Homo sapiens: one gene and its partners. The protein of the gene in region 1 interacts with the protein of each later gene in a biochemical or structural test. Each region holds a gene or a part of one and is shown in the gene's direction. Other genes may lie near its edges. The genes, in order: SPI1, IRF1, IRF8 and MECP2.

Evidence for each region.
Region 2: the proteins of SPI1 (region 1) and IRF1 form a complex in vitro, tested with the Homo sapiens proteins (2 studies listed by BioGRID).
Region 3: the proteins of SPI1 (region 1) and IRF8 form a complex in vitro, tested with the Homo sapiens proteins (3 studies listed by BioGRID).
Region 4: the proteins of SPI1 (region 1) and MECP2 form a complex in vitro, tested with the Homo sapiens proteins (2 studies listed by BioGRID).

What each region holds. Positions count from the first base shown.
Region 1 is NC_000011.10:47,354,494-47,361,681, reverse strand, and holds the end of SPI1 (transcription factor PU.1), read left to right. Parts: intron 1-1,641; coding exon 1,642-1,829; intron 1,830-2,675; coding exon 2,676-2,838; intron 2,839-6,135; coding exon 6,136-6,455; 3' UTR 6,456-6,822; downstream 6,823-7,188. UniProt on the Homo sapiens protein: Pioneer transcription factor, which controls hematopoietic cell fate by decompacting stem cell heterochromatin and allowing other transcription factors to enter otherwise inaccessible genomic sites.
Region 2 is NC_000005.10:132,487,649-132,494,979, reverse strand, and holds the start of IRF1 (interferon regulatory factor 1), read left to right. Parts: upstream 1-4,206; 5' UTR 4,207-4,435; intron 4,436-5,496; 5' UTR 5,497-5,501; coding exon 5,502-5,588; exon of another isoform or gene 5,589-6,309; intron 6,310-6,954; coding exon 6,955-7,054; intron 7,055-7,331. UniProt on the Homo sapiens protein: Transcriptional regulator which displays a remarkable functional diversity in the regulation of cellular responses.
Region 3 is NC_000016.10:85,895,291-85,902,161, forward strand, and holds the start of IRF8 (interferon regulatory factor 8), read left to right. Parts: upstream 1-3,871; 5' UTR 3,872-3,933; exon of another isoform or gene 3,934-5,956; intron 5,957-6,871. UniProt on the Homo sapiens protein: Transcription factor that specifically binds to the upstream regulatory region of type I interferon (IFN) and IFN-inducible MHC class I genes (the interferon consensus sequence (ICS)). Can both act as a transcriptional activator or repressor.
Region 4 is NC_000023.11:154,031,675-154,038,862, reverse strand, and holds part of MECP2 (methyl-CpG-binding protein 2), read left to right. Parts: intron 1-2,001; exon of another isoform or gene 2,002-4,939; intron 4,940-6,305; coding exon 6,306-6,656; intron 6,657-7,188. UniProt on the Homo sapiens protein: Chromosomal protein that binds to methylated DNA. It can bind specifically to a single methyl-CpG pair. It is not influenced by sequences flanking the methyl-CpGs.

The sequences.
Region 1 (7,188 bases):
CATGGCTGGTGGTGGACTTGTCCCAGAGACACTGCCTGGACCTGGAGTCTCGTAGGCGCCCTCTTTGGCCCACATGAGACAGCCGATCTTGTCACTTTATTACCACGCTTCATTTTGGACCCCGAATTGCGCCCAGGAAGTCCCGCAGATGTGTGGCAGTTTTTGTTCCTGGAAAAGGTGTTCATGCTGAAGATCTTCCCCAGTTCCAAGACAGGGCTTTTGGTGGCATGGGGTTATTCCCCGGACTTCAGTCTCCTCCACCACAGACTCAAGGAACCCACAGGGGGTTTTCCAGGAAAGTCTCAGGTCCCAGGAACCTCACGGGAACACAGGTGCCACTGCTTAAGGTCATGGCTTTGAAGAGGAAGGGCCACCGTGTGCCTGGACAAGTTCTAGTGTGTGAGGAATGTCAGCCCTGTGACTCTGCTGTCACACCTTGGCCATGTGACAAGGCTGTGTGAGTGTGTGTGTGTGAGACAGAGAGAGAGACTGTGGGCAGCCAGGGAGCTCAGGAACCCGTGGGAGGTTTTTTTCTTTTCTTTTTTCTTTTTTTTTCTTTTTGAGACGGAGTCTCGCTCCGTCGCCCAGGCTGGAGTGCAGTGGCGCAATCTCGGCTCACTGCAGCCTCCGCCTCCTGGGTTCACACCATTCTCCTGCCTCAGCCTCCTGAGTAGCTGGGACTACAGGCACCCGCCACCACGCCCAGCTAATTTTTTTGTATTTTACTAGAGACGGGGTTTCACTGTGTTAGCCAGGATGGTCTTGATCTCCTGACCTCGTTATCCACCCACCTCGGCCTCCCAAAGTGCTGGGATTACAGGCGTGAGCCACTGCGCCCGGCCGAGTTTTTTTTTTTTTGAGGCAGAGTCTCACTCTGTCGCCAGGCTGGAGTGCAGTGGCGCAATCTCGGCTCACTGCTACCTCCACCTCTCGGGTTCAAGCGATTCTCCTGCCTCAGCCTCCTGAGTAGCTGGGATTACGGCACCTACCACCACGCCCAGCTAATATTTTGTATTTTAGTAGAGATGGGATTTCACCACGTTGGCCAGGATGGTCTCAATCTCCTGACCTCATGATCCGCCCGCCTCCGCCTCCCAAAATGCTGGGTTTACAGGCGTGAGCCACCGCGCGCGGCCCTGGCTGGGAGGTTTTAACAGGATAGGAGGGGAATCAACTTTCCCTGAGGGCCGGCTCTGGTGCGAGGTGTTTTACAAATGTGTACTCATTCGTATCTTCCCAATAACTGTGATCCCCATTTTACAGGCAACTCAACTGAGGTTAGAGAGGCCACATATGTGCCTGAGGTCACACAGCAAGTAAATGGCAGAGCCAGGATTAGACGCTCGGTCTGTGTGACTGCACAGGAATCAGGATGGAATTGCTGAGAACACGAGCTTTGCTTCAGCCCTGAGTCCTGGCTGTGACCCGGATGCTTTTGACCTTGGGCATGCTATGTAGCCGCTCGAAGCCTCAGTGTCCTCATCTATAAAATGCAGGCCTAGAGTAACCATGCAGGTGGCGAGGGTTAAACGAGATGGTTAGGCCCCATATGGCCTGGCAGTATTATTTAATGTTACTATAACCTTTTCCTGCCCTGCCCAACCCTGAGCTCACCCCATACTGCCTGGCTGTCCCCCACAGACCATTACTGGGACTTCCACCCCCACCACGTGCACAGCGAGTTCGAGAGCTTCGCCGAGAACAACTTCACGGAGCTCCAGAGCGTGCAGCCCCCGCAGCTGCAGCAGCTCTACCGCCACATGGAGCTGGAGCAGATGCACGTCCTCGATACCCCCATGGTGCCACCCCATCCCAGTCTTGGCCACCAGGTGCATGCCACCGCCTGCCCCGTCCCCCAGGAGACTGCCAGGCCTGTGGTGGGGCCCGGGAGCTTCACAGGAAGCTGACACAGGCTCTTACCCAACTCAGCTTCCTGCCCCACAGTGCCAACGGCGGCTGGAGCTCCAACGGCTGCCGCCTGACCCCCCAAGTGACCTCATGACCCCACACCCCTTATCTCATCTCACCCCGAGTATGGACAGACCCCAGATAATTCTCGCACCCTCACCAAGCCTCCCCATCCCAACGCCTTGTTGTGGGCCCTCCTGGGCCTCACTGTCTGCCACCCCCATTCACTAGCCCTCATGGATCCCACACCAAGTCACTGAACACCTCTACTGACCCTGCCTCTCCCCAGTGACCCTCCCTACTGACCCTAACCCGGATCAGTGACCTCTGCTGACCTCTACCACCCCTACTGACCTCCAGGGTCCCTCCACTCACTCATCATCCCACCTATGAAACCCCCTTCCAGACCCAACGCACCGGTCCCTAGCATGCCCTCTTCTGACCCCAGCCTAATGCGGGTCCACACAGCACCGCTGCAGGGAGGAGAACAAGGCACCACTTCCCCGGTGCCCACAGTCCTAAACCAGGAGGCCCAGCTGGGAGGGCTGGGTGGGCTGGATGTCAGCACCCCTCGCCCCACAGCCTGCACCCTATGTGCAGCACCTCAACTGGCCCCCCTTTTCCCTGGTCTTCTTCCTCCAGTCTCCTGTGCCTGCCATTGTCCCCTGCCCTCTGCACTCCTTCTCTCCCCAGCTGACCTCCCTCCCAGCCCCCCTGAGCTGTAAGCTGGCCCTTCCTGACTCTGATCTCCTTCCCCCACCGTCCAGGTCTCCTACCTGCCCCGGATGTGCCTCCAGTACCCATCCCTGTCCCCAGCCCAGCCCAGCTCAGATGAGGAGGAGGGCGAGCGGCAGAGCCCCCCACTGGAGGTGTCTGACGGCGAGGCGGATGGCCTGGAGCCCGGGCCTGGGCTCCTGCCTGGGGAGACAGGTGGGGCACCTGGCCCTCCACCCTGGCCCCGACCCTGGCCGTGTCTGTGCCCTGCCCCCACCCAGCCAGGCCAACTGACCCAGCAGCCACGCCACCGAGTCGCGTGTGTGTGTGTGTGCATGTTTGCCAGTGTGTGTGTTTTGTGGGGCTGTCTGTGGCTGTCTCTGTGTGTGTGTATCTGCTGTGTAGTGCATACGGGCATCTCCATGAAGTGTGCCAGGTGTGTGTGTCTCTCTGTGCCATGAGTGTGTGTACATCTGGGTGTGTGTGAGCAAGTGTGCAGAGGGTGCGTGTGCACAGGTACGGGCAGGTGCATGTGTGCGAGTGGCTGTGTGAGTGGGTGTGTGAGAAGGTGAATGTGAGAGCTGGTGTGGCTGAGAGTGGGTGTGGCCATGTTTGTGTGTCTGTCAACACATGAATGTATTTCAGTGCGTGTGAGCAGCTGTGCACGTATGATGTCAGTGGGTGTCAGCAGTGTGTGGGTGTGCCTGTGTGAGCAGGGATGTGAGCATGGTATATGTGAGTGGCTGTAAGCAGGCATGTGTGAGTGATATGTGTGAGTGGGGGTGTGACAGCAGGTGTGTGAGCAAGTGTATATGTGTGAATGTGTATGTAAGCAGGGATGTGTGTGATATAAGTGTGTGTGAATGGGCATAGGTGTGTGTCAGTGGATGTGTGAGTGGGTGTGAACATGTTTGAGGGTGTATGTAAGCAGGTGTGTGTGAGCAGGAAGGTGTGAGCTGGGGTGTGTGAGCATGTATGTGTATATGTGAGCAGGTCTGTGCATGTATGTGAGTGGATATGTGTTTTAACATGTGTAAGCATGTGTGTGTTCCCATGTGTGAGCAGGTGTGTGTGGGGGGTGAGGACGTGCTTAAGCACCTGCGTGTGTGAGCAGGTGTGCATGTGTGTGAACAGGTATGTGTATGTGTGAAAGCAGGTGTGTGAATGAGTGTGTGAGCATGAATGGGTGTGAGTGGGCCGGGCGTGGTGGCTCACGCCTGTATCCCAGCACTTTGGGAGGCTGAGGCAGGCGGATCACCTGAGGTCAGGTGTTCGAGACCAGCCTGGCCAACATGGCGAAACCCCGTCTCCACTAAAAATACAAAAATTAGTCAGGCGTGGTGGTGAACGCCTGTAATCCCAGCTACTTGGAAGGCTGAGACAGGAGAATTGCTTGAACCCGGGAGGTGGAGGTTGCAGTGAGCCGAGATCGTGCCATTGCACTCCAGCCTGGGCAACAAGAGCAACTCCATCTCAAAAACAAGAGAATGGGTGTGATGTGTGAGTGTGAGAGCAGGTGTGTGTGAGCATGCATGAGTGTGAGCTGCTGTGAGTGGATGTGAGAGCAGAATGTGTGTGAGCATTTGAGTGTGCAAGTAGGTGTCTGAGTGGTTGTGTGTGAACAGGCGTGTAAGCATGCAAGTGGATATGCATGAGCAGAATGTATGTGCATGCGTGAGCAGGTGTGAGGTGCAAGTGTAAGTGGTGTGAAATATGAGTGAGCAGGTGTCAATGAGGTGTGAAAGAGCTGGTGTGAGCGTGTGAGTGATAAGTGAGCAGCTGTGAGGTGTGAGCATGTATGTGAGCAGGTATGTGTGATGTGTGAGCATATGTGTGAGCATGTGTGTGTGCAGATATGTGTGGGCAGGTGTGTGTGAGTGGGTGTGAGATGTGAGCATGTGTGTGAGGTATGAGGTGTGAGCATGTGTGAGGTGTGAGCATGTGAGTGGGTGTGAATGTGTGAGGTGTTAGCATGTGTGAAGTGTTAGCATGTGTGTGAGCATGAGTTTGTAAGCATAAGTGTGTGTGAGACTTGGTGTGAGGTGTGTGAGGAAGTGTGTGTATGGATAGGTGAGCATGTGTGTGAGCAGACGTGAGCATGTGTGAGTGGGTGTGTGCGTGAGTGAATGGTGTGAGGTGTGTGAGCACAAGTGTGTGAGCAGGGGCGTGTGTGTGTAGCTGAGTAATGTGAGATGTGTGTGAGCAGGTGTGTGCGTGTGGGGCTGAGTAACGTGAGATGTGTGTAAGCAGGTGTGTGCGTGCAAGTGTGTGTGAGGTGTGGGTAGGTGCGATCATATGTGAGTGGATATGTGTGAGTGAATGGTGTGGTGTAAGCATGTGTGTGTGAGCAGGGGCATGTGTGTGCAAGGGTGAGCAATGTAAGGTGTGAGGGTGAGCAGTGTAAGATGTGTAAGCAGGTGTGTTTGTGCAAGCATGTGTAAGCAAGTATAAGCAGGTGTGATTATGAGACCTGGTGTGAGGTGTATGAGCAGGTGTGTGAACATGAGTGTGTGAACCTGGTGTGAGGTGTGTGTGAGCAGGTGTGAGTGGGCATATGAGTGTGAGAAGGTGCATTGGGTGTGACCGTGTGTGGGGGCAGTAAGTGGGTCTGAGTGTGTGTGCATGTGTGTGAGTGGGTGCATTGGGTGGGTGTGAGTGTGCATGTGAGTGGGTGTGAATGAGGTGTGAGCATGAGTGGGTGTGACCAGGTGTGTGTGAGTGGGTTGTGAATGTGTAAGCAGATGCAGTGTGGGTTTGAACATGTGGGTGGGTGCAAGCATGTGAGTGGGTGTGTCGTGTGGGTGCCAGTGTGTGGGGGCATGTTAGTGAATGAGTGTGTGAGCATGTGTGTGAGTGTGAGCTGGTGCATTGTGTGGGTGTGTGAGAAAGTGACAGTGTGTGAGGGCAGATGTGGGTGTGAATGTGCAAGTGGGTGGGTGTGGGTGCAATCTGGCGTTTGGGTGCATTGCACAAGCATGTGTGTGAGCATGTGGGTGTGAGTCTGTGAGCACGTGCATTGTGTGTGCATGTGTGTGACAGCATGTGTGTGATCAGATACATTGTACGTGTGAGCGTGTGTGGGTGTGAGCATGAGTGAGTGGTTGCATTGTGTTTAAGCATGAGTGTGAGTGGGTGTGAGAAGGTGCGTTGTGTGAGCACGTGTGTGAGTGGGTGTGGGCGTGATGTGTGAGCATGTGTAAGGAGGTGTGGGTGCGTTATGTGGATGTGAGCATGTGTGTGTACTTGGTGCACTGTGTGGGTGCGAGTGTGTGCGCGTGGGGGGGGTGAGTGCGTGGGTGTGAGTGGGTGTGTGTGAACGCCTGTGTGTGCGCAAGCATGTGTGTGTGTGTGAGTGTGGGTGCGTTGTGTATGCACGCCCGGCGCGGGCTGGGGCAGCCGTTCCCCTGCCCTTCCCGGCCACCCCGTCCCCGGGCCCCTGTGCGTACGCAAGGCGGTGGGGGCGGCTCCCATGTGGGCCCCGGGCCCCCTCCCACCGGGCCCTCCCCCCCGCAGGCAGCAAGAAGAAGATCCGCCTGTACCAGTTCCTGTTGGACCTGCTCCGCAGCGGCGACATGAAGGACAGCATCTGGTGGGTGGACAAGGACAAGGGCACCTTCCAGTTCTCGTCCAAGCACAAGGAGGCGCTGGCGCACCGCTGGGGCATCCAGAAGGGCAACCGCAAGAAGATGACCTACCAGAAGATGGCGCGCGCGCTGCGCAACTACGGCAAGACGGGCGAGGTCAAGAAGGTGAAGAAGAAGCTCACCTACCAGTTCAGCGGCGAAGTGCTGGGCCGCGGGGGCCTGGCCGAGCGGCGCCACCCGCCCCACTGAGCCCGCAGCCCCCGCCGGGCCCCGCCAGGCCTCCCCGCTGGCCATAGCATTAAGCCCTCGCCCGGCCCGGACACAGGGAGGACGCTCCCGGGGCCCAGAGGCAGGACTGTGGCGGGCCGGGCCTCGCCTCACCCGCCCCCTCCCCCCACTCCAGGCCCCCTCCACATCCCGCTTCGCCTCCCTCCAGGACTCCACCCCGGCTCCCGGACGCCAGCTGGGCGTCAGACCCCACCGGGGCAACCTTGCAGAGGACGACCCGGGGTACTGCCTTGGGAGTCTCAAGTCCGTATGTAAATCAGATCTCCCCTCTCACCCCTCCCACCCATTAACCTCCTCCCAAAAAACAAGTAAAGTTATTCTCAATCCATCCTCTTGCAGCACAGAGTCTCTTTTAAAATTTGTTGTGTATCTCTTTTGGCCCCTGTGTGCTGCGACGTCTCTTTTTGTCATTTGTCCATCGGGTGTTTACCGAGGACTGTACCCAATGCTGGACCCTGGGAACATGAGGACCAATGACACAGAGCGCCTGAACAGGAGTTAGAGTTTGGTGGAAAGAACAAGTCCTCAATTGTGATTAGGAGAGCAGATCCTATTTAAAAGCTCTCTACTCCTGATAGTTGTTGTTTTTAAGCCTTGATGAGGTTTGAACTCATGATGATGATGATGATGATGATGATGACCATGACCAGCAACAACATTTGATATTCTGGTCAATTAGTATCTGCCAACCTTG
Region 2 (7,331 bases), on another chromosome or scaffold:
ACTGCACTCCAGCCTGGGTGACAGAGCGAGACTCCGTCTCAAAAAAACAAAACAAAAAAACACCTAGTTTAAACCTCACTGGCACCTGCACCTCAGCTCTCACAAACTCTCATTTCTGAGCACACACTCATCTCTATCAGCAGAGGATTTAACCACAGGTTGCCAAGAAATGTCTGTATCTGAGAGAATTCATAATCTGAGATAGAAGGAACACTAAACTCCAGAGGAAGAGGGGTCACACATCAACTTAACTAGGATTTACTGAGTGCCTACCATGGTAGCCACTCTTCGGGGGAGTGCAAGGATGGCGGCATCACCTTAGTGTGGTCCGTGTGGCCCTGTGCATTGATGTGTGTGTGCATGGTGACATGTTGGGAGCCATGCTTCTGGGCTTCAGGACTAACTGCAGCCCACTTAGGGGGTGAACAGTGTTTTGAGAGCCTGAGGGAGGGGACTGGGGACAAGAATTGTCTGTCAGGGTAGAGGCTCCCACAGGGTGTGTGAATGTGTGTGTGAGATGATCTTGCCTTCAGCATCCTGATTGCAGAAGTCACTTCAAAGGAGCCCCTGCCAGCCAGTTAGCCTCCTCTTGCCAGCACAGAAAAATCCAGGTCCCAATACAGAGAGGCCACACAATGAATTCACCCTCATTGAGTGAGGCTATGGATGAGAGGCATCTGTAAGGAAGACCTTGCACAGTGCAGGGTGCTGGCTACCCTCAGCTAACCCCTAGCTCGCTTCAGCTGCTGGGCATGAGGAACCTGCTTAGATTTCTCACAGAAAACATGGAGAGTTCTTTTTCTCACAGAAAAAATGTAGAGTTTGTTCCCCAGAGTTTGTTCCCACCATGTAGAAAGTGACCAGTGGTGAAAAGGAAACATAGGAAAGTTAAGGACCAAAGGGTCCAAGGAGGGAAAAGAAAGGACTTCTGGTTGGTTGCTTTGCGGGCATTTTGAAGAGATCAGGCATATGCTCTGGGCCTTAAAAAAAGACACAGAGATTGAAGTGGTGGGGTGGGCAAGGGAGAGAGAGATGGAGAGAGGGTGAGTGTTGCCAAGTATCCTGAGGAGACAGGGATGAGGGGACAAACACAGTGTGTTCAGATAATGGAAATACAGTGAAAGGTTCATGCGTTCCTGTTCATACATTTCATTTGACTTATGTCTTACAGTTTGGAAATAATTTTGATAGTCTAATTTTACAATTAGGAGAGATGGAGAGAGATTATCTCTATTTTACAGATGAGAAAACTGAGCCCCAGAGAGGGACAGTAACTTGCTAAGATCACATAGCAAGTGGAAAAAGCACAATAAGAACCCAGGCTTTCAGACTCAAATCCTGTGTTCTCTTTTCATCCCCCTTTAGTTTCATCTTCCCTACTGCCAAGGGTAGGGAAGCTGTCAGGGACAGAAGGTTGGAATGGGACCCCAGGACAAGACTGAGCAGAGATTTGAATGTGGGGCTGAATGTAGGGGAGCTCAGAAGGCTCCTGGGTGGCCCCGAGTGTTAGGGAGATCATCCGAGTTAGGGAGATCATTCCAGTGCAGAGGCACCATCTTCCCCATCTACCTGGGCAAGGCAAGGAGGCCCAAGGGGAGGTTGGGGCAACAATAGTCTGGTCCTGGACTATGAAATCACAACCCGATACAGGGAAGGAAGACCCAGAAGACCAGGTGGGAAAGAAAAGGGCTGGCTCCGAATTAATAAGAGCCTACAGGAGCCTATGTGTTCTGCTGGGGATCACAGAATGTTCTACATCTTAGAATGTGATTCATCAAAAGCCATTACAATAAAAATGTTGGGTACTTAAACATGGCTTAGCTTTATTTCACTGATTTGGAGTATAGCACCCCTAGTCATAATAAGCATATTCTTACAGGCTTCAAAATAAAGTAAGAATCCCTAAGGTTAAAAAAAAAAAAAAGGTCAAAGATGTAAATGTAAATGACAGTTTCATTGGTAAATCCTAACTGGGGAATTTCTCCTAAGCAAAAAATTATTGATATGCACAAAGATTTAGCTAATAGTGTTGTTTGTATTACGAAAAAATGGAAATAACCTAACTGTCCTACAATAGGGGATTAATTGGGTAAATTTTTATTTATCCTTGTGAAAGAATAATGTATACCTATTACAAATGACATTGCATAAGTACATTTCATGACATGGAAAGATGCTCATTATGGCTAAATATACATATGCATATACGGGTATATTTATACCTGTATCTGTGAATTAAAATTAAGTTTTTGTTTTAAAGCATTTTTTATAGTGTCCTGTTGCCTTCACAGGGTCACTGTGGTCAACTTATCAGACCACAAAGATGCAAACTTCCTTTCCCTAATCTCATCCTGAATTTTCCAGTGGATGTGTCAGGTTCTCAGGGGAAGGACAAGCATCTATTTGCTGTACCAAGAAAGGATCCCACGACTCAGGGGTCACTTGTTTTCTCTTATTCTTGCTCAGAAGGTCTTGGTCCCTGTAGCAAGTCCCCACTTCCATTTGTCACTTAAAGTACCCCAAAACCCACCTTTCCATTCCAGAGTGTCATTGCCCTCCACTTTGCTTAACACTCAGTTAGGTTCCTTCCTCAGTTTCTCCTACCTCCTTTCCTCTCCTAGCTCCTGACCCACCTCTATCTGGTAGACAGTTTTGCCCATTCCTGCTGGTATCCTGGGAACCAGGTTTGGCATTGGTCACAGCACTCAGATTGCAATGCGCCAGAATGGGATTAACCCATGCATTTCCTCTACGGGAGGGAGGTAGAGTGACTGGCAAGTCGAATGTTGCATGGGTGTGTCTATTTATAGCCTGCAAAATGGGGTGCTGCCCTGGAGGGAGAGCTGGGGTGAAGGAAATGACACGCCTGGGAGAGTAACTTACTTCTGCAGGAGCTTTAGGGAGATGAAGGAAGAAGCCTCCTGGGCCAGAGTTTTGGATGGAAAATGAACACCCAGTCAAGTCTCTAGGACTATACGTGGGGCGGGGACTAGTTGTGCGCGAGAGTTAAGTAGGGGCCTTACCAAGGAGCATGGGACCTGGGCTCCCCAACCCTTTGGCTAGCCCCATGGCGTTGATCAGCCCTGAGCTAATTCCTCCATGCTGCCCAGAACCTCTCTGGGCCAAGCCCTGGGGACTCAGAGATGACAGCAATGCTTCCATTGCGGAACTCCCATACGCGGGCCACAGGGAGGCTCTGGAGGCGGCCTGAGGCAAGAGTGCTAGGAGGGATCAGAGCTAGCCCACCCCTACCCTCACTCAGCCGTCTGGGCTTCTCTGAACCCCTTCTCCTCCTCTGTTCCCTAAAGCCAGCCAGGGGGAGTCCCAGGGAGGCAGACCGAAAAGGGGTGGGGTGTCATCCTGGTCACTATTAGACCCTGCAACGGCGACCTTGAAAACTACTCAGCGTCTGTTGCCCGAGTGGAGCATAGTGCTTTACAATCTCTTCCCATCACAGCAAACCATCAAGGTAGGGCTACTATTATTTTATGGTTGAAAAACAGAGGTCCTGCGTCCCTTGGGGGCTGTGCCAGCAGCGGCCAAGTTGGGATTTCCCCTGGTCCAGCAGCCCCAGACAGCACACGGGGCAGGGTAGGCTTTCTGCCTTCTTCACTTCCCCAGGGCAGGTGAGTGACCTGGAGGGAGGGGGTCACCCCTAAAAACAGGGGTAGTGCTAGGACTGAAACCCTCCCTTCTTGATATCCCACTGGCAAGCTTGAGGAGCCAGGCTGCCAGTCGGGAGATTCGGCCCAGTGTTCCCACTGGAGAGGGCGGCAAGTGCCCGGGCGATCCCCTCACCTGCGTTCGGGAGATATACCCCCGCCCCCGCCCCGCCAGGAGGGTGAAAAGATGGCCCCAGGAGCCAGCCGGCTGGGACAAGGCGGAGTGAGAGGACAGGCTGGGGCCAGGGGCGCTGGGCTGTCCCGGGCAGCCCTCCTCCGGGCAAGCCGGAGCAGGGGTGGATTGGGAGCGCTCGGGGCGGGCCCGCGGTGGCCCCGGGGCGGTGGCGCCCGGCCGGAGAGGGTGGGGCGGAGCAGCCGCCCTGTACTTCCCCTTCGCCGCTAGCTCTACAACAGCCTGATTTCCCCGAAATGACGGCACGCAGCCGGCCAATGGGCGCCCGCGCGGCTGTCCGGGGGCGGGGCCGGCCAGGGCTGGGGAATCCCGCTAAGTGTTTGGATTGCTCGGTGGCGCCGCTGCCCTGGCAGAGCTCGCCACTCCTTAGTCGAGGCAAGACGTGCGCCCGAGCCCCGCCGAACCGAGGCCACCCGGAGCCGTGCCCAGTCCACGCCGGCCGTGCCCGGCGGCCTTAAGAACCCGGCAACCTCTGCCTTCTTCCCTCTTCCACTCGGAGTCGCGCTCCGCGCGCCCTCACTGCAGCCCCTGCGTCGCCGGGACCCTCGCGCGCGACCGCCGAATCGCTCCTGCAGCAGAGGTGAGTACGCCTTTGAGGCGCGGGGCACCGGCGGCGTCGAATAAAAGGCGCGCGGGGCACCAGGAAGTGGGGGGTCGAAAGCTCCAGGCTGGAGACTCGCCGGCGCGCGGCGTTGCCCGGGCCTCCGCGCGGGCTCCGGGGGGCGCCGGAGGAGCTGCGAGCCGCGGGCCGCGGCGCGGGGAGGGCGGGACGCGGCGTGGACCGCCCACCCGGACGAGGCTGCCGGCGCCCGGCAGCTTTCGCAGATCTGCGTGCGCGCAGCCGCCAGGGGCCTGTAGGTGGCCCGCTATGTTCGTCCCGCGCATCCACACGCCGTGCCGGGGACCGAGTGTCAGCCCACGCGTGGGCGCCCAGTGCTCCCGGCTTTCGGCGGTCCCAGCTCCGCGCCCAGGCGACAGGTTTTGGGCTCCCTGTGCTGGTGGCAAGGGCTGGCTTACTGCCCAGGTGGCTGGAGGGAATCGTGACCTACGGAGACTGCGGGAAGAGGCGCCACAGGTGTTCCTTGGGCCACTTCTCCAGAGGAGGGGAAACCGGGCCGGAAGGGTTAGCGTCCTGGTCTTAGCGTTGTGGGCGCTGTGGCTGTCAGGAAGGCGTAGAATGGATTCAGGGGGGCGGGAGGGGGCTGTTCAGGGTGACGGCTAGCCCTTTGCTAGCTAGTGGTTACAACTCAAGTCAAGGGAATTTCTTCTTGGCATCAAGCAAAAGAAGTCCCTCCCTTCCCAAAGGATTTGAATTTTGAGCGAAAAGTTCTGAAATTAGGGTATCTGTGCATTTTGTCTCTTTTCCTGCATATGAATCCTGAAGCCATCACTTGCATGCCTGTCTCCTCCAGAGACTGGCTGGGAGGGGCTGAAGGAAGGGGCAAAAGCATTTTTGCCTAAGATGCTGAAAAAATTTGGAGAGCAGTTTTATTCCAGCGCAGCTCCCCTCCGCACTGAGTGTAGTACCTAGCAGCTGGCTGAGGTGAGGGGAGGGTAACTAAGTGACCTCGGGTGGGGCAGGTCACTGCCCAGGTACTGTTCAACAGATTCCAGACTGGAGCCTCTGTGTTCTCTTTACAGCCAACATGCCCATCACTCGGATGCGCATGAGACCCTGGCTAGAGATGCAGATTAATTCCAACCAAATCCCGGGGCTCATCTGGATTAATAAAGTGAGTGTAACTCTTTGGGTTTTCCTGCCACTGTTTTAACCCATGTACTTCTGGAGGGACCAAAGCTTCAGATGCAGCTCAAAAAGGGAAGTGATAACGGGACAAGCAGGTGTTTCTCCCAGTGGGTCCTGCATGCAGGGAGTGTGCACGGCCCAGCCTGGGCCTCACTTGCATGACTCCTGCCTTCTTCCCTTCTTGAGGTAGGGCACCCACCTGAAGGCACTTCCAGTTTCCAGCAGCAAGACTTTCCAGCATCTGCAGAGCTGGAGTTCTGCTCTCCTCTAAGCGAGACCCTTACAAACATACACAGCACTCTGCAGGGCTCCAATCGAACAAATAGAAGACTGAGAAGTGGATGCTGCTGGGCAGAAACGTGCCTGGCTTAGCAGAGGACAAACGAGTTAATCTTGCACCAGTCACTCTGGCCCAAGAAGCCTATAGCTGGTGCACTTGGGGCAACATAGACCCTATAGACTTAGTAGCAATGATAGTATTCATAATAATAGCTAATGCTTACTGAACACTCCCTGTGTGCCTGGCACCTGCTAAGTATGTTATTTACATTGTGTCATTTAATCCTCGCAGTAGTCCTGTGGGTTAGATCTTACTAATGTCATCATTTTCAGATAAGTAAACAGAGGCACTGAGAGGTAGATCATAAGATCACACAAAAAGTGATGAAGCCAAGATTTGAACTTGAACGGTCTGACTCAGAAATCTTTACTGTTAACCATAAGTGATATAATAACAGTAAGACCTTAGACTTCATATTTGTCACTGTGTCCCTACACATCCTCTGGTTTTTAATCCTCAAAATTTTGTTGGATATGTTTTCTCATTTCCGAGAAGAGAAAACTGAGGGGCAAAGAGATACAGTGACAATGCCAGGGTTACACAGTGTTCACCATCCAAGTCTAGCCCAGAGCTCCCTCAGTGGTATGACCAGGACCCCCTGTGTAAGAGCCCATGCTCCCAGGTGTCCTGAGGAGTCCTTTCTAATGGAAGAAGTTCTTACTTCCATGTGGGTGCTTACAAGCCAGAGAGAAACATCCCAGAGCTTCAAAACCAGGGCTTTGGGGGAGGGTGCCCTGTGTGGGTCCTAGCACATGTGTAACAGGCAGAGGGAGGTCTTTGTGAGCTAATAATGCTGCAGCTCATCCAAACTAGGTGTCCCTCCTGAGAGATCCAGAGTGGTCTGTTTAAGCCAGCCTCAAGATGGGTGTCCAAGCCAGATGTCAGGGGAAAAAAGGGGAAGTCAGCCTTTTCTCAGACCTGTCTGGCTGGGCAGGCCTGGGTCTCAGACTCAGCCCCAAAGTCTGTGGTCTCTGACCTGACACAGCCTTATGTGTATGTGTGTATTGTTCAGGAGGAGATGATCTTCCAGATCCCATGGAAGCATGCTGCCAAGCATGGCTGGGACATCAACAAGGATGCCTGTTTGTTCCGGAGCTGGGCCATTCACACAGGTGTGTGCCTGGGACTCAGGCCTAGGAAGCCCAGGGTAGAGACAAGAGGAGGCACTCACGTTAACACAGAGGCTCTTCACTGGGGTCCCTGAGCTCCCTGAGACAACATGCAGAATTACTGGGAAGAGGGGCTGGTGGCAGACTTGTGTTTCTGGAGAAGAGAGTCGATCATCTCAGCAAATTCTCAAAGGGAAAAGCCAAGATCTTAGAAAGTGTGTGGCTTCAGGGGGTTTGTGGCTAGATGAAAGTTCTCCCTGGCAAAAGCATCTGTGAAAAG
Region 3 (6,871 bases), on another chromosome or scaffold:
CCACGAAGGTCCCATCTCCAAATACCATCACGTTGGGGGTTAGGGCTCAACATATGTATTTGGGGGGACATCATCTGGTCCATAGCAGGCACTGTCCGGGTCAGAAGGCCTCCCAGGGATTTGGTCCTGAGGCTGGCTGTGGAAGGTGCCCTTGCTTCATCACCTCTGCACCTGCTCCACTGTAAGAACTGGGCAGACAGATTGGCAGCTTAGGCCAAGCAAGATAGATGGTACGGAGGCTCGACAGGAAGGTTTCTGGAGATCAGGAAGATAGGAATTAAGGAAGGTGAAGAGGAAGAAAAAGGGACTCCATGAAGAGGAGAGGGTCTCTAAAAGCTGGAAACATAAGTGAGGAGGTGAGAACCAGTCTGAAGCACCCACCTGTTAACTGGTGGGGGCAGGAAGGTGTTAGAGGAGCTAGGGAGCTGACCAGACGGGAGGAACCCTTCCCATTCTTCATGGAGGCAGATTATCGCTGGTCTGCAACTGGCATTCTTAGAGTTAGGAATCACTGTGTCCATTTTTCTAGACTTCTCTTATTGGTGATGATTTGACCTTTTCCTCTTGCACTAATGAGCAAGGTGGAGGAAAGAGATCTCTCTCTCTCACACATATACTATCTCACTCAATGCCCACCAATCCTAAGAGGCAGGAACAATTGGGTTACGCCATAGTGAACTGCCCTTCTGTAGGTCAAAATTTAAATGTAGGTGATGTCACAGAGTTTAACCTAGTATTACCATCAATGCCATTATACAGATTAGGAGACTGAGGCTTCGGAAGGTTAAGTCATTTGCTCAAGCTCACACATTTGGTGAGTCAGGGAGCTTGGATGTGAACTGGGGCCTAACTCCCAAACCTGCTGTGGTAGGCTGCCATCCATGGAAACAGGGGTTCCTGCGGGAATGTGTAAGAGATGAGGTTGGTAAGTATGACTTTTAGATGCCAGGAGTTGACCTGTGTGGCTACCAATGGGAAGCCCCTGAAGACAGAAAGGTAGGGTAGCAAAGTAGAATCAACAGGGAAGGGATGAGGAGGCCGGAGGGTAAGTAGGCCACTGCGAGATCAGGACGAAATTTACTGGGATCGTGAGATGCTGGAAGGAAGGATCAGAGAATCTGGGACCATGCTCTGCATCTTTTTGCTGCAATAAATGGTATTGCATGAGATACCATTTATTGCCATGTGTCCTCATTGTAGTCATTTTTGTAATTTATATGACAAGAAAAAATGACAGGGTGATTTTTACATATGTGCATACCTATTTACACACCTTCCAGATCAGGAGTGGTGATCTGAGCTCACTAGATATGCTCAATTAGGTAATAATCAATTCAGGTCATCAAATTGATCACCCAAATCAATTTAGGAAATTGATGACCTCAATTAAGGCAAATATATACAATGAAATATATGCAGCTGTTAGAAAGGGCTAGATCCCATATACTAAAATGGAAAGAAAGCCCTTTGAAACCTAAGAAAACTGTGTTTCCATTATGTGAGTAGAAATCTTGTGTACACAGAAAAATGGTCTTTCTTCTTCCCCTCCCCTCCCCTCCCGTCCTCTGAGACGGAGTCTTGCTCTGTTGCCCAGGCTGGAGTGCGGTGGCGTGATCTCGGCTCACTGCAACTTCCGCCTCCTGGGTTCAAACTATTTTCCTGCCTCCTGAGTAGGTGGGACTACAGGCGTGCGCCACCATGCCCAGCTAAGTTCTTTGTATTTTTAGTAGAGACAGGGGTTTCACCATGTTGGCCAGGCTGGTCTTGGACTCCTGACGTCAGGTGATCTGCCCGCCTCGGCCTCCCAAAATGCTGGGATTACAGGCATGAGCCACCGTGCCCAGCCAGAAAAATGGTCTTTCAATTGGAAATGTAATTCCAGAGAATAAAGAATAGAACCACACTGTAATATGACAAGTAATAACACACACAAGCGCTAAAGGATTTTTTTTTTTTTTTTTTTTTTGCCTCCCGATATCTGAGGGGCAGGCTCCGTGGAGCCTCCAGGCTGAGAGGCTGAGACTGGCAGAGCAGGCTGGGTTCTGGATTCTGATACTCCTGGGCAGGAGTGTCTCAAAGATTGAGACATTATGTTCATTCTTTGGGGCTCCTGTTCTTGGCACTATATCTAGCACATAGTAGTTGCCTCATAAATACCCATTAAATAAGAGCAGAACTAAACACATCTGGTTAGAAATTGTTCCTAGGCAGCAAGGAACCAACACGTGGAAAATATGGGGTTTCTGGAGCAGTGTTAATGCAAGCCAGTTCCTGTAATGTACATAGTGACACCTACTGCCAATGACACGTGCTGGAGCCCTTCCACTGTTGATTTCCTATATTCACTTACCCTTGTCTTTAAGTGGATGTTGGTGGAAACTTGAGGATACATCTTTGTGCAGCAGACAGCATTTGTAAGTAAATCTGTGTAGGCTTAGGGCCACATTGATAAAAATATATGAGAGTAAACATATACAGAAGCTGTTTTAAGAACTTCTGATGTCCTAGATGCTCTGATTTCTGGAAGCTCCATCCCACATCGTAGCAAATATATTAAAACACTCTCATATTCTCTAAATACTCTTAAATAATGTGAGTGTTAAAACAGTAGTTTCATTTGAAATTATTTGATGTTGCGGAACTCACTTTCTAATGACTATGACTTCCCGGCAATCACGGCATTAGGGAATTCATACCAAGTGATGTCTAAGTTATAGTTTCAAAATATAATGAAACATTTATCCATCAATACATTACAATTATGAAATTAACATGTTTTGGGGACCTTCATTTAAACATTTATTAATCTCAGATTTGCAGTATACTTTTTGTATTGTGCAGTCAATAAAATTTTCAGTCTCAAACATTTTCATAGGTCCCTGAAAAGCTCAACGCAAAAAACAGCCCCCATGTGTGATTCTCTACTGGGCAATAAAAGCCAATCGCGACCCTCATTTTCCCCCCATTCCAGGGCTTCCCCAGGATAGAACGCGGAAACGCTTCTTTTTCCGTTTCCAGGGATTTCTTTCTTTTTCCAGTGTCGTTCTCCCTCTCCCCCACTTCATTTTTACAATAAATGTCAGTGCACACCCAGGAGCGGGTGGTCCCACAGGGGACATCTTAACGCCCACCCAGGAGCGGCTGGTCCCACAGAGGACCTCTTAACGCTGACGCTTTCTGGAGAAAAGGATTTGTGATGAAAATTTCCCCAAGGGGACCTTCTAGCGCCTAGCACCTTCGATGCTCCTGTTTCAGTCGCGGTCTCAGCGGGCAGTGGCCTCCTTTGAAGCTGGGATTCTCCTGCCCCTCCCGGGCAGCGCAGGCCACCGGTGACCCGGGACGGTCTGTAAACGACCTTCGCGTCCCCGTCCCCGTGGAATAACGCGCGGCGGGCATCACTGCCCAATATCCAGCGCTCGTGAAGGCGGAGACCGGCGGGGCAGCTAGTTTCTGGCTGTGGATTCTGATTAATGGGCCGCAGGCGCACGGTCTGCACCGTCCGGCTCGTTGCTAGTGGCTCGCTCGGGAGCCGCCGCACTCCCGGGGCTGTCCGCCCGAGCCGGCCTGGAAGGCGGAGGACGCCTCCAGGTCGCTCCGCGGGGCCTCCGGAATTCCTGGGAAAGCCCCCCTGCAGCGCCGCCCCTGGACCCCAGGTGTGAGGAGCGGGGCTCGGCCAGCGGCTCCAGAAGAGGCCCGGACCCCACTGCCGTGGCTGCCGGGGGCGGGAAAGTGATTTCTCGGAAAGCAGAGCACTTCGAAGAAGGCGGGCCGCGCGAGCCAAGCTGACGCTATTGGTCGGTGTGGCCGTCGCTCTGCGCACCGCCCGTCCCCCCCACGACCCTTTTTAAGGCCGCGCGACCGCTGGCGCATCGCCTGGAGCGCGGCAGCAAGCGTGGGAACGCGGGCGGCGAGACGGCGGCAGGACGGCGGCAGGTAGGCACAGTGGGCGGGTAGGGCGCCCGTGTCCCGCGCGGTCCGGTCCCGCGGGGTCCCCGACGCCAGGCGGGGCGTGGGGGTGGAACTACCTACCGTAATGTCCCCGGGCGCAGCTCAGTGGCCACCCGTGTCCCTCTCTGCTTTTTGCCTATTTTCCAGCCACCTAAGTCCAATCTGAATGCCCAAGTCGTTGATTGTCGTTTGCCTGTTTCCAAAGATTGGTAGATAGATGCCTTTTTAAAAATCTCATTTTTCTTTAAATCTGGTTTACATGGAAAACGTTAGGAGAGCTCATATAATGAACGGCAATAGCAACCCCCTATCTTGAAACGCGCTCTATCATCCCACTGAAATTCTACCACGTGGAATAATGCTTGGAGGGTCAGAGTTGTGGAACTGCCCAATAACCAGTCGTTACTGAGGGTTAGTTTGTGAAGGAGGGGACAGACTGCTTCTAAAATTCTGTTTAATGACAGTCAATTAAGATTTCTGAGTCTGGCTTGAGGGCCTTTGCTTCCATCACAGCCCAGTCGTCCTTGGCAAGAGAGTCTGTATATGGGCCACAGCTCACAAAAGCATTGTTTGAAAAAATTTATTGAAAGAACATTGTTTGTAAAATGAGTCCCAATACATAGGACAGACTTTCCTAAGGTGAGATGTGTTACTTACCCAGAGCTGTGAAAGGCTTTACGGATGGAAACTAGAGACTGAATTTTCCAGAATTTTAAGAAGTCTCCCCAACCAATGGCCCCCCACTTTCTTTTTTTAAACCAAAGGTAAGAACTGGTAGTTAAAATGACAGTTCAAAGCTTGTCCTTTTGGGTTACGGCAGCTTCCTCTATGAAAAGATTTGGGAGTGATTCAGTCACTTGAGGAAGGTTGGTGCCAGAGAGAGAAATGGCTTTGGTGCTTTCTGGTCTAGTGATGCGGGTATGCTAGGCCAGAGCGAGTGCCCTGGGCCCTCCGAGGCGGGGGAGAGGGTGGGGTCTGCTGCTGCCAGCTCAGGTGTGACCTGTAATCTGGATTAGGTGGGCCCAGGGCAACCTCTTATCACGTCCCTCCTGGAAAGCCTGACTGCTGTATACATTTCTAGGGCTGCAGATAGGGCTTGGCCAATAGATTACCTCAAAATCAAGAAGAGGAAGTTATAAACATGTGATTAGACTTATTAATTTTTCCTGGCTGGGCATTTGGTGGAATTCGTTTGTTAATGTTTAATAAATCATTATGGATCATAACTGTAGTAGAATCTCAGGCTTTTGATGTTACTTAGAATCTTGGAGGAGACCACGAAGGACACACAGACGTGGCTGCACATGTGCAGAGATCTTGTAACGTAACTATGGCTTTTCTCTGCACCATGTGTGAAATAAGCTGCCGCTGGCGTTGGGGCGCCGGCCTGGGTTCCAACACAGTCCGCTGGCTGCCTCGGTATTTGCCGTGCCTCTCTGGGCCTCAGTTTTTCCTCTCTTAAATAAAGAGGGGACTGGATTAGATGATTTCTAAAGTATTTTCCAGCTTTCAGATGCTATGACTTACTCTTCTCTTTTTCCTTTTAAAATTTCTTTTTCCTGTAAATCACCAAGATAGTTGTCCTGAACAGTTTAGATGTTATGAATCCATTAGGAATCCTGATAAGAAAGTGTTGACCCTCTTTCTAGAAAAATGCGTGTACTAACAAAATTTTGCTTTTGGTTGCAGGAGGCTCAGGAACTGTGGATTCTAGTTTAAGAAACTTGTAGCAAGGAAATCAGGGGAGTTGAAAGTCTCAGAAGCCAACCCCTATGTTGTGTTCTGGCCACCTCTGTGCAGCTCATTCCTCAATCTAGGAGAAATTTTTCTACCTTGCCCCAGGAAAGAGCTGCTAACTTGTTTTCGGGGAGTGTGGGGGGGTCTTTGGTATTGGTGTTCCATTTCTCTTCTCAGGTACCCTCTCCCAAGTCTGTCCCTTCTTTATGATAAACACAGTGGCCTGCTTTAGAATTCTGGGTCTCTTGAGATACAGCCTCTCAACTTACAGGTGAGGAAGCCTCAGGGAGAGGTTCAAGTGACGTCACAAGGTCTGGTTAGAGAAAAGCCTTTGCCAGAGTTCAGAGTTTTCAAACCAAGGTCTAATTTGGGTGGGCGCAGTGGCTCACACCTGTAATCACAGCACTTTAGGAGGCTGATGTGGGAGGATCACTTGAGGCCGAGAGTTCAAGACCAGACTGGGCAACATAGCGAGATCCTGTCTCTAAAATGTATATCTGGGTGTGGTGGCATATGTCTGTAGTTCCAGGTACTCAAGGGGCTGAGGCAGGAAGATCGCTTAAGCCCAGGAGTTCCAGGCTGCCGCGAGCTATGATGGCACCACTGCACTCCTGCCTGGGTGACAGAGCAAGACCCTGTCTCTAAAGAAAAAAAAATTGAACTCATCCCCTTTTAAATCCATAAACGCACAACTGAGGTTGTTGGATGGGGAATTTAAGAAATCCCACCTCCTCCTCCCTGGGACCTGGCCCTGTTTCCCGTCTCATGGCCACCTGCAGGGTGGCTGAAGTTTCCAGAATGCGTACTTCTTGTGAAGGTTCTGATTGATATTTTGCTTTCTGGACCAGTGTGGCTCTACCATATTTTGGGATGTTATGTCTTGTTACTGCTGATTGTTTCAAACTCGTTTGCCCAAAGAGGTCACATTTTAATCAGAAGAACAAAAATGCTATTTTTTTTTTTTTTTGGGTGGGCGTCTATCCAGCTGTCTTGGGGATTTCCAGCACTGTTCTTGGAAATGTTGGCTCTAAGTCGATAGGTCATGCTAGTTCTCTCTCTCTTTCTCTGTGCTGTTGGGGAAGCTGTCTGCTTGGGTGAGAGTGTTCTTCCAAAGGATGTCTTTGGGTGCCCTGGGATGGTTAGGTCCCTAGAGTGGGACATGTTCTGGAAGAGGAGCCCAGTGAAC
Region 4 (7,188 bases), on another chromosome or scaffold:
TGTTTTTGACTCACGGTGATCTCAGACAAGTTCCTCTGTCTAGTCGAACTTCTTTTTTTCCATCTGTAACACTCAGGAGTTGAATAGGTGGTTTTTCTGAGGATACTTCAACTGTAAAATGTATGAACTTGTGAACTAGCTATTTAGTTCTCCTCATAATCAAGATTGTGTGTGTGTGGGGGGTTCTGATTAGAGGGAGGATGAAGAGAGGTGTATGGGGTTTTTTTTGTTTTGTTTTCTGTTTGTTTGTTTGTTTTTGAGATGGAGTCTCACTCTGTCACCCAGGCTGGAGTGCAGTGGCACGATTTCGGTTCACTGCAACCTCTGCCTCCTGGGTTCAAGTGATTCTCCTGCCTCAGCCTCCTGAGTAACTGGGATTACAGGCATGCACCACCATGCCCAGCTAATTTTTGTATTTTTAATAGAGATGGGGTTTTCGCCATGTTGGCCAGGCTGGTCTCGAACTCCTGACCTCAGGTGATCCACCTGCCTCGGCCTCCCAAAGTGCTGGGATTATAGGCATGAGCCACCACACCTGGCAGGTTTCTTTGAAAAAGTTTGTGTTTCGGCAAACACCATAAACCCCCTGGGGGACAGCCTTGGGGAGTCACCTGGCACCCTAGCCCAGCCTCCCTCCCTTGGGTCCTGCAGTGAAGGCTTAGTGAGGGTGTGCAAATGCCCAGGTCACCCTGGGACTGGGCAGGCCCTCTGGGCTAAGGGTAAACTCATTTGGAATACCTGTTTTCTATCATTGTTTTTTATTTGTTAAATTTAAAGGGTACAAGTGCAGTTTTGTTGCGTGGATATATTGTATAGTAGTGAAGTCTGAGCTTTCAGTGTAACCATCACCTGAATAGTGGACATTGTACCCGTTAAGTAATGTCTCATCCCTCACCCCCTCCCACCCTTCCCAGTCTCTCCAGTGTCTGCCATTCCTCACTCTGTCCATGTGCACATGCTATTCAGCTCCTGCTTCTAAGTGAGAACGTACGGTATTTGACTTTCTGTGTCTGAGCTGTGTCACTGAAGACAATGGACTCCAGCTCCATCCACGTTTTTTATCATTTTTACCTGCACTCCACACCCAGCACAATCCAGGCTTCTTTGTGGGTTTTTTGAAATTTGTCTTTAATTATAAAAGTAGCAGCCAGCAAATTAACAAACACCCATGTGCCTTTCATTGCACAGAATTGAAAATCATCATACTATATTTGCTTCAAGTAATTTCCATTAGAAAGAACTAGAATATTACAGTAGAGTTAAAGACCCTTTATTTCCCATCTTCAGTGCTCTTAAAAGTTCATTTAGGGCCAGGCATGGTGGCTCACACCTATAATCCCAGCACTTTGAGAGGCCCAGGTGGGTGGATCACCTGAGGTCAGGAGTTCAAGACCAGCCTGGCCAACATGGCGAAACCCCATCTCTACTAAAAATACAAAAATTAGCTGGGCGTGGTGGTGCGCATCTGTAATCTCAGCTACTCGGGAGGCTGAGGCAGGAGAATCGCTTGAACTCAGGAGGGAGGCAGAGCCTGTATGCAGTAAGCCGAGATTGCGCCACCACACCCCAGCATGGGTGACAGAGCAAGACTCCGTCTCAAAAAAAAAAAAAAAAAAGTTCATTCATTGTACACTTAGAAATAGTTAAAAAGGTAAACTTTGTTTTGTGTGTGTGTGTATATATATATATATATATATATATATATATATATATATATATGTATTTTTTTTTGAGACATATATGTGTCTGGTTTGTTCGCCCAGGCAGGAGTGCAGTGGCATGATCAACGGCTCACTGCAGCCTCAACTTCCTAGGCTCAAGTGATCCTCCTGCCTCAGCCTCCCGAGTAGCTAGGATTACAGGCACACACCACCATGCCCAGCTAATTTTTTTTTTTTTTTTTTTTTTTTGTAGAGACAGGGTTTTGCTATGTTGCCCAGGCTGGTCTCAAACTCCTGAGCTCAAGCGATCCACCTGCCTCACCTCCCAAAGTGCTGGGATTACAAGTGTAAGCCACCACACCTGACCTGTTTTGTATATTTTACCACAATAAAAAGCCTTTAAAACCCCAAGCAGACAGTTCATTTTCATTCAGGCCCAACTCAGAATCTGATCACAGCGGGGTTTCCCCCCTTTCTAGCGAGTAGCTGAAGAACTGTTTTCTCTCCTTGATGGTATAACTGTCTCTGTGGGTGTTGCTCCCCTGCCGCTCCAGTGGTTTTGTTTTTGTTTTTGTTTTTTTGAGACGGAGTCTTGCGATCTCAGCTCACTGCGACCTCTGCCTCCTGGGTTCAGGCGATTCTTCTCCCTCAGCCTTCCATGTAGCTGGGACTTACAGGCACCTGCCACCACGCCCGGCTCATTTTTGTATTTTTAGTAGAGACGGAGTTTCACCATGTTGGCCAGGTTGGGCTCGAACTCCAGACCTCAGGTGATCCACCTGCCTCAGCCTCCCACAGTGCTGGGATTACAGGTGAGAGCCACTGCACCCAGCCGGCCCCTCAGTCTTTTCCTTCTCAATCAGTGGCACCACCATCTTCCCAGGCTTTGGACATGGTCCCTGACTCACCCTTGCCCCTCACCCCCACACTAATCCACCTGCGAGCTCTGTTGCTTCACCACCTAGACCAGCCCCAAATCCTCAACTGCCCCCACCCTGGGCCACACCTGGACCACTGCTAGAGGCCTCTCATGGGCCCTCCCTGTTTTTCTCTTGCACTCCCCGGGCTTTCTGGCACAAGATGCCCCAGAAGCAGAATCACATATCTCTCCTGGGAGCCAATCTAGTGTGTTTACTGCCCCTGGAGTGTTATTGTTGGCCTTAGAATATGTCCCACTACAGGTTTGCAGAGCACTGTAGTCAAAAGTCATTTGAAATAAATCTTTTCTCTGTGGTATATTGTCAATTTGATATAGAATTAAATTTGTTTCTTTTCTTTTTTCTTTTCTTTTTTTTTTTTTTTAAGAGACAGGGTCTTGGCCAGGCGTGGTGTCTCATGCCTGTAATCCCGGCACTTTGGGAAGCCAAGGTGGGTGGATCGCCTGAGGTCAGGAATTCAAGACCAACCTGGCCAGCATGGTGAAACCCCGTCTCTGCTAAAAATACAAAAATTAGCCGGGCGTGATGGCAGGTACCTGTAATCCCAGCTACTCGGGAAGCTGAGGCAGGAGAAGGCTTGAACTCAGGAGTCGGAGGTTGCAGTGAGCCAAGATCACGCCATGGCACTCTAGCAAGACTCTGTCTCAAAAAAAAAAAAAGAGAGAGAGAGAGACAGGGTCTTGCTCTGTCACTCAGGCTGGAGTGCAGTGATGTAGTCATGGCTCACTGCAGCCTCATACTCCTGACCTCAGGTGATCGACCCGCCTCGGCCTCCCAAAGTGCTGGGATCGTAGGCTGAAGCCACCATGCCTGGCCCGAACTCATTTGTTTTTATTTGCATTAAGTGTAATAAGGTTTTGTTACTTTTAGTTTGAATTTTATTTTGGGTAATATAAACATTTACATGATTCAGAAGTCAGAATTACACTGAGGCATGTTCAGCTAGGCCTCACTCCTGTGCCTGTACCCTTACCTTTTTCCCCCTACCCCATGCAGGGAATCAATTTCATTAGTTCCTGGTGTGTCCTTCCTTAATACCCCCCCTTCTTTCTTTGGTAGAATGCAGTAGATATGTTTGCGCTTTGCTCCCTTTGCTTCACAGTGGATCCTGGAAATGACTCCATCGCAGTTCTTAGAGCTCTTGTTTAGTCCCTTTGGATCTGCACAGTACTCCAGTGTGTGGGCGCACCATAAGTTTATTCAGCAAGTGCCCTGGTGATAGGGATCGGGGGTATTGGAAGCCTTTGGCTGGTAAAAATAATGTTGTAGCAAATAACATCATGCATATGTTCTTTGAGATTTCTGGAGGTGTCTCTTTAGCATAGATTTCTAGAAGGCATTCCTTACGTCACGTTTAGGTTTATAGTTTGACCTCATGGTGATTAAGGTATTTGGGAAATGCAAATGAGAGTTTCGAAGAAGCCAGATCTTTCCCATTAGTTCACTGTTTTTCTCTGACATTAGGACCGTCCGGGTTCTAGGGAGCAGCCCTGGCGTTAGGCAGTGCCATGATGGATTGTGTAGAAGTAGCGATTCCCATCTGTCTGCTTTCTTGGCCCACTCTGCTGGTGGCTCCCCTTCCCTCCCTCCTTTATGGGGAGCTGGGGAGCTGCCTAGGGGTCCATTCTCAAAGGCTGATCTCTGGTGGGCAACAGGCCACACCTAGCTTTCCAGGGTTCTTCGTCATTTCCCATTGAGAGCTGTAAGACTCAGAGACATGAAAAGGAAGCTCTGGCTGGGCACGGTGGCTCACGCCTGTAATCCCAGCACTTTGGGAGGCTGAGGCGGGTCGATCACCTGAGGTCAGGAGTTCGAGACCAGCCTGCCCAACATGGTGAAACCCCGTCTCCACTAAACATACAAAAATTAGCCTGGCGTGGTAGCACACGCCTGTGATCCCAGCTACTCCGGAGGCTGAGGCAGGAGAATAACTTGAACCCGGCAGGCGGAGGTTGCGATGAGCCGATATTATGCCATCGGCAACAGAGCGAGACTCCATCTCAAAAAAAAAACAAAAAACAAAACAAGGCGAGCTCTGTGCTGGGACAGATTAGGGACCCCTCTTTACAGCAAGAAAGACTGCTCTGTGGGTTGTAGGATGCCTTTGTGTATGCAGTGGCTCTAGGTGACTCTGGCAGCCACACTCTGGGCCCTAAACTTCTGGAGGAAGATACAGGATAGGGAGGAACTCAGGGGTGAGTCATGGTGGGGACAAGACATTCCCTCACTCTAAGACCTTGTCACTAGATTGGAACATCTCTTGCCTCCCTACACCTGACCTGATGGTTCTGGAGAGATACGTCCTTGCAGCTTCTGAGTCCCAGCACTAAGCAGCCTTTGGTAACTTCCCTACATCATTTGAGTTCTGGTTTCCTAAGGATGCTTGCCAGTGAGTGCCATGGTGCCCTCATTGCACAGTCTGTGCAGTGTAGACAAGAGGGGAAGTCTCTTGGGGTAGACCAGCCGCAAGGCGGTGACTAGCACTGATGTGAACCACATGGGACAGGGGAGTTGTGGGGCTGAGAACACGGAGGGTGGGAGTAGTCATGCTCTTTTCCAGAATGAACTGCTAACGAAGGGACTCGCAGGTGGCTGCTGCTTCTTTCCAAGCTGCCCCTGTTGTTGCAGAGGCTCTGGAGTCCTAGGAGGTTTCACGGTGGCATACTCGACAGAGTACTAGAGCATCATGGCCAGATAGTGATGCTGGGGTGTGGGGCCTCACGGTGGCCATTTCTGACGAGACCCCACCGGGCCAAAGTGATGTGTAGAGAAGGAGCTGCTTCGGTCACCAGAAAAGAACGGGGAAGCCTCCCACACTAGAATAGGTAGGGTGCTCTTCTCCACCGGCAGGAAGGGGATGTATGGCTCTGCCTGGACCACACCTTTTTCCTTGCTCTTCCCTCCGCATCTGCTGTGGCCGAGGCCATTCCTCATCAGGGAACATGTGTTAGAGGCTCACGCCACCTGGGACCACTTGTCTTATCACCCCCAGGACCCTAGGCGGTAGTTTCCTGTGGCCTGAGTTAGCTGATATTTATATAGTGCCATTGTGCCTTTTCTCCTGTGATGCTCACAGTAAGGATGCCTAGATGGGGTTACCTGTTGTCAAGATAAGGAAACTGAAGCACAGAATGCTGAGGTCATTTGCTGGGTTCATGTTTGGAAAGCGGCAAAGGATTTCAGTGCAGGTTGGCTGGCTCCAAACCTGTGTGTGCTTTCCATGACACTGTACTGTGTGCCTCATTGAGCCTCATTCTAGAAAACCAAAAACACACCCAAGGCCCGGCCTTCACAAAGGAGACCCCTCCCCCATTTGGCTCCCTTTCCAGCAGTCGACGGCCTCTTGTCAGCCATCGAGCCCAGAGTCCCTTGAAGTGCGACTCATGCTGGGGTGGTATGCTCAGGAGCCGCAGTGTTTCCGCTCAGAGGAAAGGGCTCTGATTCTCCTGCAGTGCTAGGAGACTTGTGGGTGGCCACAGTGCAGGTCAGGCACACCGGCCAGCACCACCCACAGCCCAAATTCCTAAAGAAATATTTGGGTCCCAGCTTGGCCCGAGTCTCTGTTGTCCTGGGGAAGGACATCAAGATCTGAGTGTATGATGGCCTGGGGCCTTGCATGTGGTGGGGGTCCAAGCCTGCCTCTGCTCACTTGTTCTGCAGACTGGCATGTTCTCTGTGATACTTACATACTTGTTTAACACTTCAGGGAAGAAAAGTCAGAAGACCAGGACCTCCAGGGCCTCAAGGACAAACCCCTCAAGTTTAAAAAGGTGAAGAAAGATAAGAAAGAAGAGAAAGAGGGCAAGCATGAGCCCGTGCAGCCATCAGCCCACCACTCTGCTGAGCCCGCAGAGGCAGGCAAAGCAGAGACATCAGAAGGGTCAGGCTCCGCCCCGGCTGTGCCGGAAGCTTCTGCCTCCCCCAAACAGCGGCGCTCCATCATCCGTGACCGGGGACCCATGTATGATGACCCCACCCTGCCTGAAGGCTGGACACGGAAGCTTAAGCAAAGGAAATCTGGCCGCTCTGCTGGGAAGTATGATGTGTATTTGATCAAGTAAGTAAGAGCAACTCCTATCTCTACAGGGCAGGGAGGGCAGGGACAAGGATCCCTCATGGAGCAGGAAAATGTATGTGCCCAGGGTGGGGTCGGGGGGAACATAAACAATGAACACTGAGACCAGGTGTGCTTGAAATGACCGTGTACAGAGGTCGCTGCCCTGAGTGGGAAGTTCTCAAGGTAGCAGGCCCTCTATCCTCTCCACACCTCAAGTCTTTATCTGGGGATGGAATAGCTGCGGAAGCAGAGGAACTTGCAGAGCTAGGGGTTCAGAGGGGTGAAGAAGCATGTTTCAGTTCTGCCTTTTAAATGATCCCAAAAAGGTTAGCAGTTTTCAAATGACATTTGCAGACAGCCTCATTTAATTCCATGAGAAGGGTGAGCAAAGGATTATCTTGTTGAAACTGATTCCTGGAGAGACTGAGCACCGTACCTGAGTTCAAACTTGGGAATGTTCTAGATGGTGACTCAGGCCCAGGCACCAACCAGCAGAATGGGCCTCAGCCTGACAACCCTTCTGTACCAGGCC